2 separate regions of the Homo sapiens genome follow, and region 1 is linked to region 2. Evidence: fine-mapped expression QTL. A gene starts in region 2. The other region holds a variant in brackets. All regions are shown on one strand. Distances are between the middles of the regions.

Evidence for each region. PIP is the estimated chance that this variant, and not a neighbour inherited with it, causes the effect. A credible set is the group of variants that fine-mapping cannot tell apart.
Region 1: its variant is the best candidate, but not a certain one, in a credible set for the expression of MPP2 in esophagus muscle (GTEx, PIP 0.63).

The regions. Positions count from the first base shown.
Region 1 is chr17:43,870,618-43,875,964 of GRCh38, forward strand. MPP2 (MAGUK p55 scaffold protein 2) reads right to left here. Exons shown (of 13, transcript NM_005374.5): 13 at 4,743-5,347. Among named protein-coding and RNA genes, the nearest start is that of CD300LG, 26 kb to the left of the region's middle. The variant C/A (reference allele first, on the strand shown) is at 2,825.
Region 2 is chr17:43,905,535-43,910,906 of GRCh38, forward strand. It overlaps MPP2 (MAGUK p55 scaffold protein 2), which reads right to left and starts at 2,002. Exons shown (of 13, transcript NM_005374.5): 1 at 1,940-2,002. RefSeq lists an enhancer at 2,012-2,161.

The DNA of each region.
Region 1 (5,347 bases), 35 kb before region 2:
GAAAGCTGATCCCTTAACCCTGAAGGATTTGCCAAACATCGCCCTTGGGTGCTCTTTTGATGTCACCTATGGCCCCTGTTTCTGAGTACCTGGAAGCAATCCTAGTGTTACCACTGGGAGGGTCCATGACACTTTTACAGAAGATAAATCTGAAGCCCAGAGAGGTAGAGGGACCTGTTGGGGGCCACACAAGTTCCAGGTGGAGCTGAGTGAATTAGCCACAGCATGTCTGAGTCCTCGAGCCCCATGAATGCTCGCAGACACCTGGGTGCAGGCATTTTTTTTTTAATTTTAGATTTTTAGGGGGTACACATGCAGGTTTGTTACATAGGCATATTGTGTGATGCTGAGGTTTGGGTTTCTATTGAACCTGTCACCCAAATAGTGTACAGAGAACCCAATATGTCATCAATATGTAGTTTATCTTTTCTTTTCTTTTCTTTTGAGATGGAGTCTTGCTCTGTCCCCCAGGCTGGAGTGTAATGGCACGATCTTGGCTCACTGCAATCTCCACCTCCCGGGTTCAAGTGATTGTCCTGCCTCAGCCTCCCAAGTAGCTGGGATTACAGGTGCATGCCACCACACCTGGCTAATTTTTGTATTTTTAGTAGAGACGGGGTTTCACCATGTTGGCCAGGCTGGTCTTGAACTCCTGACCTCAGGTGATCTGCCCGCCTCGGCCTCACAAAGTGCTGGGATTATAGGCATGAGCCACTGTGCCCGGCCAATATGTCATTTTTCAACCCTTATCTCCCTCCTTCCTTCCCTCCCTCCCTCCTCTTATCATCCTCAGTGTCTATTGTTGCCATCTTTATGTCCATGTGTACCCAATGTTTGGCTCCCGCTTATAAGTGAGTACATATGGTATTCAATTTTCTGTTTCTATGTTAATTTGCTTAAGATAATGGCCTCCAGCTGTATTCATGTTACTGCAAAGGACATGTTTTTTTTTTTTGTTTTGTTTTTTTGAGACAGAGTCTCACTCTGTCGCCCAGGCTGGAGTGCAGTGGCGTGATCTTGGCTCACTGTAACCTCTGCCTCCCAGGTTGCAATACAAGCAATTCTCCTGCCTCAGCCTCCTGAGTAGCTGGGACTACAGGCACGCACCACCATGCCTGGCTAATTTTTGTATTTTTGCTAGACACAGGGTTTCACTATGTTGGCCAGCCTGGTCTCCAACTCCTGACCTCAGGTGATCCACCCGCCTTTGCCTCCCAAAGTGCTGGGAGTACAGGAGCAATTTCACTATTTTTATGGCTGCATTATATCCCATGGTGTATATGTACCATATTTTCTTTATCCAACCCACCACTGATGGACACCTAAGTTGATTCCATGTCTTTGCTATGGTGAATAGTGCTACGATAAGCATACAAGTGTGTTGGAGGCCAAAAGAATGAGGGTCGTGATCAACCCAGTATACCACTGGAGGCTATATGAGCAAACAGCAAACTGTTCTCATAATGCAGAATGTTGGCAAACTGACAAACTGCGTCTGCCACCCAGAAGGAATGCTGAGGGCAGTCACGCCCCAGGCGCAGTGTTTGTGATTATCTACAGGCACACCTGAAGCCTGTTAGCAATTATGTGAACCTGTGATAAATCAAGCAGCTGACCAATGGTTACCTGCTCTTCCCTACTCTTTCTACCCAATAAATATGGAGGGCTGTGGAAGCTTAGGGCCCTTGCTCACTAGAAGCAAGAAGCCCCCAACCCCTTCTTTAAAACAGATTCTTTTGTCTTAAGTTTTCATTTCTGCGTTCATCCTCTTTTGTTCAGTCCCATAGTAACTGTCACAAGTGGTGCCCAAACAGGGATGAACAGGGATAGGGACAGACAGGGACAGATAGAGACAAGCAGGGACTTGCAGGGACTCGTAGAGACTAGCAGAGACAGACAGGGACAGACAGGGACACGAACGAGGAGGGTCCGCTGGAGCAGAGAAAGTGAAACTGGCCAGACGAACGAGAAACCCCAGAACGAGTCTGCTGGCAGTGGATATAAGGTCAGTGCCCTAAAAAAGTACTGGGATATAAGGTCAGGTCCCTAAAGAGGTACTGGGAGCGGGAAGTTTCTGAATCAGGGTAACATGGGGCAGAATTTGTCCATTCTTTCTGTTTTTTCTGTTTGGGGTTTGGTCTGTACTGTCCTTTTGTCATTATTTCAAAATTTGAAAGAATTTTTTGCCCCACCCACAGCACCTATCAAGGGCGGTGAATAGGAGAGGGAGGGTGAAGATTGGCCTGTACCGTCTTCTTTTGTGGCTGCAGAAATACTAACTTTAACTTTGGCTTTGAGAATGCAAACGTGGATTGTAAGCATGCACTGGCACCTGTGAGATGTACAAGAAGCTTAGGAAATTTTCTCAGAGCTTGTCAAGATGTGGGAATTGAGCTTCATCGCTCTACAATGTTGGCTCAAGCAATGGCTAGTTTAGTAGTTGATAAACCTAAAAGGAGCCAAGGGTCAAACCCTAAAGTGGGAAAGTGTTATAATTGTGGAAAAATTGGACATTTCAAAAAAGAATGCCGTCAGATCTCTGGAAAGAAGGGATCTTATAATACAGTTCCCTCCCGCACAATAGAAAAAAACACCAGGACTTTGCCCTCCTTTGCAATAAAGGAAATGATTGGGCTAATCAATGCCATTCAAAATTTCATCAAAACAGCACCCCCCTGTGGGGAAATGAGAAGGGGGCCTGGATGTGGGCACCTCAAACAATGAGGGCATCCCCAGTCCAGCCCACAACTCCGTTTCAAGGGTGGGTTTCCGGAGGCACATTGATTCCCTCTCCCCAGGAACACCTGGAAGCACAGGATTGGGT[C/A]TCCCAGTCAAAGAATGTGTTACTTTAGTTGGAGGAGACAAATCCACGAAGATTCCCACTGGGATTTGTGGACCTTTGCCAACAGGATACATGGGATTAATTTTAGGCAAAAGCTGTCTTAACTTACAGGGCATTACTGTAGTCCCAGGAGTTGTTAATTTGGATTATGAAGGAGAAATTCAAGTAGTGGTAATGTTACAAGATCTTTGGGTTTTGAACTGGGAGAATATATTGCTCAACTGTTGCTTATCTCCTGCAAATTACACCCTTCTCCACGAAAGAAGAAACAAGGGAATCAAGGATTTGGAAGTACAACTCGGAGGGACATTTATCTATCACAACCAATAGCATCTAGTAGACCCACTTGTGCAGTGCAAATTAAAAGTTTTGTGGGCTTATGGATACGGGAGCAAGAGACTGGCCTCTGGCAGTAATGGATCTTGGAGATTTTTTTTTTTTACTATACCTTTACACGAGAAGGATAAGCCTCGATTTGTTTTCTGTGCCTTCTGTTGATTGGAGAAAGCCTGTTTCTCATTATCAATGGAAAGTTTTACCCCAAGGCATGCTCAGCAGTCCTACGTCATGTCAGCATTTTGTAGGAAAAGCATTAAGGAACCTCAGAATATGTTTCCCACTGCCTATAGATTTACTAACGTGGGGACGAGGGTATGCTTATGTTTTTATAGGAGATGGACAAACCATGTGGGTGCCCTCAAGGTGTGTGCAACCATGGAACAGGAGACTGGAGGGACCCATGGATCCCAACCATGGGCCTGGTTCCCCTGGTATGAGCCATGAGCCAGTTGAATCTGAGTGCAAAGACAGAGTGAGGACTGACCAGAGTCACACTGACATCAACCCCCATAACATGAGGACAGATTTTGTTCAATTAATGTAAAAACAAAAAGGGGGAGATGTTGGAGGCCGAAAGAATGAGGGTCATGATCAACTCAGTATACCACTGGAGGCTGTATGAGCAAACTGTTCTCATAATGCAGAATGCTGGCAAACTGACAAACTGCGTCTGCCACCCAGAAGGAATGCTGAGGGCAGTCACACCTCAGGCGCAGTGTTTGTGATTATCTACAGGCACACATGAAGCCTGTCAGCAATTATGTGAACCTGTGATAAATCAAGCAGCTGACCAAAGGTTACCTGCTCCTCCCTGCTCTTTCTACCCAATAAATATGGAGGGCTGTGGAAGCTCAGGGCCCTTGCTCACTAGAAGCAAAAGCAAGGACCCCTTCTTTAAAGCAGATTCTTTTGTCTTGTTTTCATTTCTGCATTTGTCCTCTTTTGTTCGGTCCTGTAGTAACTGTCACAAGTGGCGTACATCCTCCTTCATTCAGTCCCATAGTGACAGTCACACAAGTGCAGGTATCTTTTTGGTGGAACGATTTCTTCTCCTTTGGGTAGATGCCCAGTGATGGGATTGCTGGAATGAATGGTAGTTCTATGAGAACTCCCCAAACAGCTTTCCACGGGGGCTGAACTAATGTACGTTCCCACCAATAGTGTATAAGCACTCCCTCTTGTCTGCAACTTCACCAGCATCTCTTATTTTTTGACCTTTTAATAGCCATTCTGACTGGTGTGAGATGGTAACTCATGGTAGTTTTGGTTTGCATTTCTCTGATGATTAGTGACGTAAAGCACTTTTTCATACATTGTCACTTGTATGTCTTCTTTTGAGAAATGTCTGTTCATGTCCTTGGGTACAAGCACTTAGAAGGAGCATCTTCTGGGGATGGGGGAGTGTGCAGGGGCAAGACAGAGGAAAGGAAGACATCGCAGAAAACAAGACATGTTGCTCTGACTTCCATTCTAGTAGTCATCTGTGCTGTGCTCCCCAGCTCTCACTCTCTCCCAAAGCCATCCATCCAACCCCAACCAAAGAAAAGCAGAGCCAGAAGCCTTTGCTTTCACATTTAATCCAAGGAAAAAGAAAGAAAACCAATCAGTGAGAAAACTCAAGAATTGGATGGCTGAGGGAGGGAACAGAGGAAGCGCACTGGGGCTGGGACTGAATATGGACAGTGGATGGTAGGGTCCTCACTCTCTTGAGGTCCCTCAAATACAAGAGTCCACAATGGCAGGGAGGGAGAACAGAGTCATAGAGCTGTGGTGGGGGCACACACCTGTTCCAACCCAGCCCCAGCCCTGTTCCAGGTGAGCCAAGGACTGACAGCCTCTGCTAGGTACCTGGGAGGGCTGTGGAGTGAGGGCTCAGGCAGGGGAGGTAGGAGGCTGCTCAGAGAGGAAAGACCGAGAAGAGACAGGAGGGAAGGGCCCCAGGCCTGCCCCTTGAGCATCCCTAGCAGTGAAGGTGCCATGAAGGCCAGGTACCCAACCCATCTCCATCAGAGATGATGGTCATTTGGATCAAGGGGGCAGAAGCAGCTGCAACAACAGATCTTCCCCTGCCTCTACCCTCAAATCCCCCAGAGAAGGTAGGAAATGGCAAGTGACCCTATAGCCTCAGGTCAGCAAGAAAACACCCCATTTCCTTCCCACTCCCTT
Region 2 (5,372 bases):
GAGGGCAGGGGGTTACCCCCCACCCTTCTTCCCTTTGCCTTCCTGGGCATGTGCTGCTGGATAAAACCCTAATTCCCAGTTGCCATGACAACAGGAGGCAGTGGCTCACAGCAGGGGTGGGGAGTGGGGGGAAGCATCTGGCAGTGCCCACTTTAGGACTGAATGCCTGCTGAGTCCTGGGGGTGGGGGAACCACGGCAACTCCACCTCCCCCCAAAAGAGGATTCTTCCCAGAGGACTAGTACCTGATTTCAATAAAACCCTCTCTGCTCCCATTCCCTTCTCAGGCCTGAGCTGGTCACCTGAGCTCAGGTGACAGAAATTACAAAAGTGAGGGGGATGGTTCCCTTTCCTCCCAGCTCTGCCGCTGAGGACATGGAATAAAGGTGCTTTCAGGGAGAGGAAGGGCACCCCTATTCAGGCTACACCCAGGCTGGAAGAAATGCCCAGGATCCACTGTGCTGGCCCGTGCCCCTGGTGCCAATCTCTACTCCTAGAGAGCAGGGAGGAGGGATCCCTTCCCTCCCCCTCCCAGGCCTTGATGACCTGGAGCCTTCTCCTGGCTGGCGCTGCTCTCCCTCACAGGGTCAGAGAAGGGACTCCAGAAGTCCTCCTTCCCTAGAGCGTGGAGGGCGGGAAAAGGCAGGGAGGATCCTGTATGAAATCCCTGCGCTCGGAAGTCTTGCCCAGCCTGCCTGGGTTTTCTCCCGGGGAATCGGTTCCCAGAGCATCGGCTGGCTTTGCTCCCCCACGCCCGTCCAAGCCTCTGAGAGGGCGGGGCCTGGCTGTGTCCACAGGAGAACGGCAGTGCCAGGCAAGCTAGCCTGGCTCCGTGCCAAGGTCCTGCACCCAGACATCTGGGAACCTGCACCTCGGCTTCCAAAAGCCTGGGCCCAGATGCCCTCTCAGCTCTGCCTCCGAGATATCCACATCACCCATAGTGTCCGCAGGCGAGCGGACCAGCAGTGAAAGGGAGAGGTTTCTTCCAACCTCCCACCCATCCCTCCATCCATACACATACAAAGAGGTGCGGAGAAGAAAGGTCTGACAAAGGCGCTTTGGAGAGCGAGAGGTCGCGGGGAGGTCTGGACAGAACTGAGGGCCAGAGGATGGGGTCGAAAGGCCAGGCGGACGTGCATGCTTGGACCATCAGATCACCCCTGCCCCAACGGACCCAGCCCTAACACCCTGGGCGCTAGGACCTGGGGGAGGGGGGCGTGTTGTGAGCCATCAAAGAAGGCTCTCTACGTGCGCGCCCGCCGGAGACCAGGGATGAGGTCACTAAATGACTGCCCCGGCCAACCCCCACCCCGTCTTTATCCGCACCGCCCCCCCCTTAATTGACCTAACTTTCTAACCCTAGCTCTTCGCTTCTGGCACCGGTCCCCTCCCAAGTCTCCAGACCCTAACCCTGGCTCCCGACCCGCCCCGCTACAGCTTGGGAAGCGGGAGAAGCAGCGCGCGCCCTTCTGCGGACCCCCTCCCAGGGAAGATTGTGGTGTTAGCTGCCTAGGGGGACCAGGGGGCCACCGGGACCCAGCGCAACCTCTGTCTCGCTCCCCAACCCCCGGAAGCGCTAACAGCACGGTTCTTACGTAATGCCGGGCTTCTAAGTACCCCCAACCCGCACAGCCCCCGGGGAGGCCGCGCAGATACCGGGGCCCCTCACAGCTCACCACCTTGGTGCCTGAAGCCACTTTGGAGCCCCTACCGCAGGGGCGGGGACCAGTGTCAATGGGCAGCGGGGCTTGGTTCTCCCAACCAGCACCCCAGAAAGAGGGCCCAGGGGCGGGGGCGGGTGGACAGGGAGGGAACGGGCCTGGGTGAAAGGGGCCTGTGGAGTTTAAACCCAGTGAATAGGGTCCTAAGTGCCGTGTCAGGACGAAAAGAAGGCGGAGGTCTTGGGATAGGAGCTGGCCCGGGGGCCGGGGGACGCCTACCTGCGCCCCGGGAAGCCCCTAGCTCCGGGCGGCTCCAGCGCAGCCGGGCGCTCAGCGTTTATTGCTTGTCAATCGCTAGCCCGGCTCTTAAAGCGGCAAGGCCTCTCCGCGAGGGGGCGGAGGTCCGGAGGAGAGGGGAGGTGAGGAGAACGCGGAGGCCGGCACAACTCGGAGGAAGTAGTCTTTCCCAGCAGCTGGTACGGGGGCAGCCAGGTAGTGGTTTGGGAGACACCGCACAGACCACGACGCCCTGCTGGAGTCCCACTGGGAAGGGTTAGGGAGGCAGGACTGGTACCAGTACCCGCTGGTGCCCCTCGGCTCCCAAGGATCCCTTAAAGGGGCGATGGTAAAAGTGCCTAATGAGACCGGCTTGATTACTCCGCCCACCCATCTTGGCTTAGACCGGCGTTCTAGTTCCAGGCGTGCCTCACTTTTCCTCGTTATCCTGCTTCCATATTGAGAAAAAGAATAGGAGGACTTCAGAGAGACTCCCAGGAAGCAGGATACCAGCCCCAGAAGGCCTCGGGATCAGGGGCAGCTTTTTAAGGACTCAGAGGGTGGATATCCGGATTCCAGACTTTCCAGAAATTTTGCAAAAAAGAGGAAATGTCTTCCTGAAAGGATTCGAGAGCCTCTTTTAGGTCTAGGTGAGGGAGGCCTGGTCCATTTTCCTGCCTATGGAATAAAGAAGTAACTGGCTAGCCTTCCTCAGAGTCCCAGCCCAAAAAGTAAATAAAGGGTTAAACCCACTGGCCCGCCTTCGCCCAGCCTCCGGCTCCACCCCACATCTGCTAGTAAAAGATGCTGGGCCTCCAAATACGGGAGGCTCTGTGCAGTGCGACTAGCATTTGGGGCCAGCTACGCTACTTCTCCGACCTCGGCGTTCAGCCACCCCGTCCAGTTGCCCTGAACAAAATGTGAGAGTCATCCCTTTTCCTTGCTAACTGGATTCCTAAGATCATAAATGGACTGCATCTTTGGCCGGGCGCGGTGGCTCACTCCCATAATCCCAACACTTTGGGAGTCGGAGGCGGGAGCATCGGTTGAGCCTAGGAGTTCGAGACTAGCCCAAGCAACATAGTGAAACCCCATCGCTACAAAAAATAAAATAAACAAAATTAGCTGGGCGTGGTAGCGCGCGCCTGTAGTCCCAGCTACTTGGGAAGCTGAGGCTGCAGTGAGCCGAGATTGCAACACCGCACTCCAGCCTGGGCAACAGAGTGAGACCCTGTCTCAAAAGAAACAAAAAGAAAAGAAATGGATTACATTCTGGAAACTTGCTTGGAAATCTCAGAAATGGGAATCTATCCCGAAAGCAGGGGACTGGTCCCTGGGTTCCAAGACTCAGCTCTCCCCTGAGTTCCAAGGGTATAAGTTTGGATATAGGAAAAAGCCACAGAGGCGGCCGAACTGCTGAAAACCACATTGTTTAGGTGACCCAGGCTTTTACTGAGAGAAGAAAGCCATCGAACCCAGATAGCTTTGACAGGAATTGCAGGCTTTGGTCTCTAAACAAAGAGGGTTCTTGGAGCGCATTGCTTGCAGCTCTTTCCTCTATCTGCAAGCTAGAAAATCCTTCTTCTTCTTCTTCTTTTTTATTTTTATTTTTTGAGACGGAGTTTCGCTCTTGTTGCCCAGGCTGGGGTGCAATGGCATGATCTCGGCTCGTCGCAACCTCTGCCTCCCGGGTTCAAGCAATTCTCCTGCCTCAGCTTCCCGAGTAGCTGGGATTACAGGTATGCGCCACCATGCCTGGCTAATTTTGTATTTTTAGTAGAGACAGGGTTTCTCCATGTTGGTCAGGCTGGTCTCGAACTCCTGACCTCAGGTGATCTGCCCACCTCAGCCTCCCAAAGTGCTGGGATTGCAGGCATGAGCCACTGCACCCGGCCTAGAAAATCCTTATAATTGAATTCAGGAAGAGTTCCCCTTTCCATTATAAAGGCTACCCTCCACTGTCACCTGTCCACCTCTGGGCTGGAAATCACTCAGCTATTTGTATTTTGGAAGAGGAAGGATCTTGAATCTCTACAAGATATTAATTACTTCTTAATCAAGCAATTATTACCTCCATAGCGACCCACATCAAATCTTCCATTCCATTTAGGATCCTCAGGACAGTCTGGGATCTCAGATTCTGGCCCACCTGGGGAGGTGGAGCCCAACTCATTATTCTTAGCGGCTGCCCCACTGCATTCGTCGGTCAACAAGTATCTCTCTAATAAAGGCCTTGCAGAATGCCAGCCTCTCACATCTGTTCAGGACCTTACAATTGACAAATTGTTTCATTCTCACAACAGCCTTGTGCAGTTACAGAATGAGAAGAAACATTTATTGATGCAGAATAGGATGCTCCTCTTCTGTGCCAGGCAAGGTACCACTTACTGTGATACTGAGATAAGGGCCCTAACCTCCTAGAGTTCACAGTCTGGGGTTGAAGTCGGAAAGGAGTGTGTTACATAGATACAAAAAGCGCTTCTTGGTAGCACAGCTGAATGCCATAATAAAGGTGCAGTGTGTCCTAAGCTGTTCCCCAAAGGAATAGAGCTGCTAATGGTTGGCAATGGAGTAGCTGGGAAGGGAAGCAGGTTTGAAGGTCGGCAATGCATCCCCTAGTAGTTAAGGGCTGCCCCCTACCTCAAGAGGGGAATGAGTCCTCCTTCTCTGAGGTTTGTAATTAGCTCTGCCTTCCTCCCTGCCTCAGCCTCAGAGGTCATAAAGGTGCAGGTAGTATATCTCCTTCCCCCAAAATCAAGGTATTCCTATGGTGGTGTTCAGCCCAGAGTTTTGGGAGTCAAGGCACAGAGAAAAATAAAACTCAAAAGTGTTACAAATTTCCAGCAGGTAAGGCTTTGCACTGAGTGATGGTGCACTTCCTATAATGACCAGCAGGGGCCACCAACAGCTATTCCCAGTTTATCTACACCCAGCCTCTGAGGTGCTTCGCCTCCACACCTGCGACTGGCCAGTGCCTAGTTCTGGAAACCTTATTTATGGACTATACTTAAAAAAAAAAAAAAAAAAAAAAAAAAAAACTTGGGCGAGGTGCCATGGCTCACACCTGTAATCCCAACACTTTGGAAGGCCGAGGTGGGCAGATCATGTGAGGTCGGGAGTTCAAGACCAGCCTGGCCAATATGATGAAACCCTGTCTCTACTAAAAATACAAAAATTAGCTGGGAGTGGTTCCGGGCGCCTGTAATCCCAGCTACTTGGGAGGCTGAGGCAGGAGAATCGCTTGAAGCCGGGAGGCAGAGGTTGCAGTGAGCCATGATTGCGCCACTGCACTCCAGCCTGGGCGACAGAGTGAGACTCCGTATTTAAAAAAAAAAAAATTAGAGCCTTCAATGGACTATATAAAATTATATAAATATTTGCCTATAAACTATATTTGTGTTATTCAACTAATTAGTATGCATATTAGAAATCACAC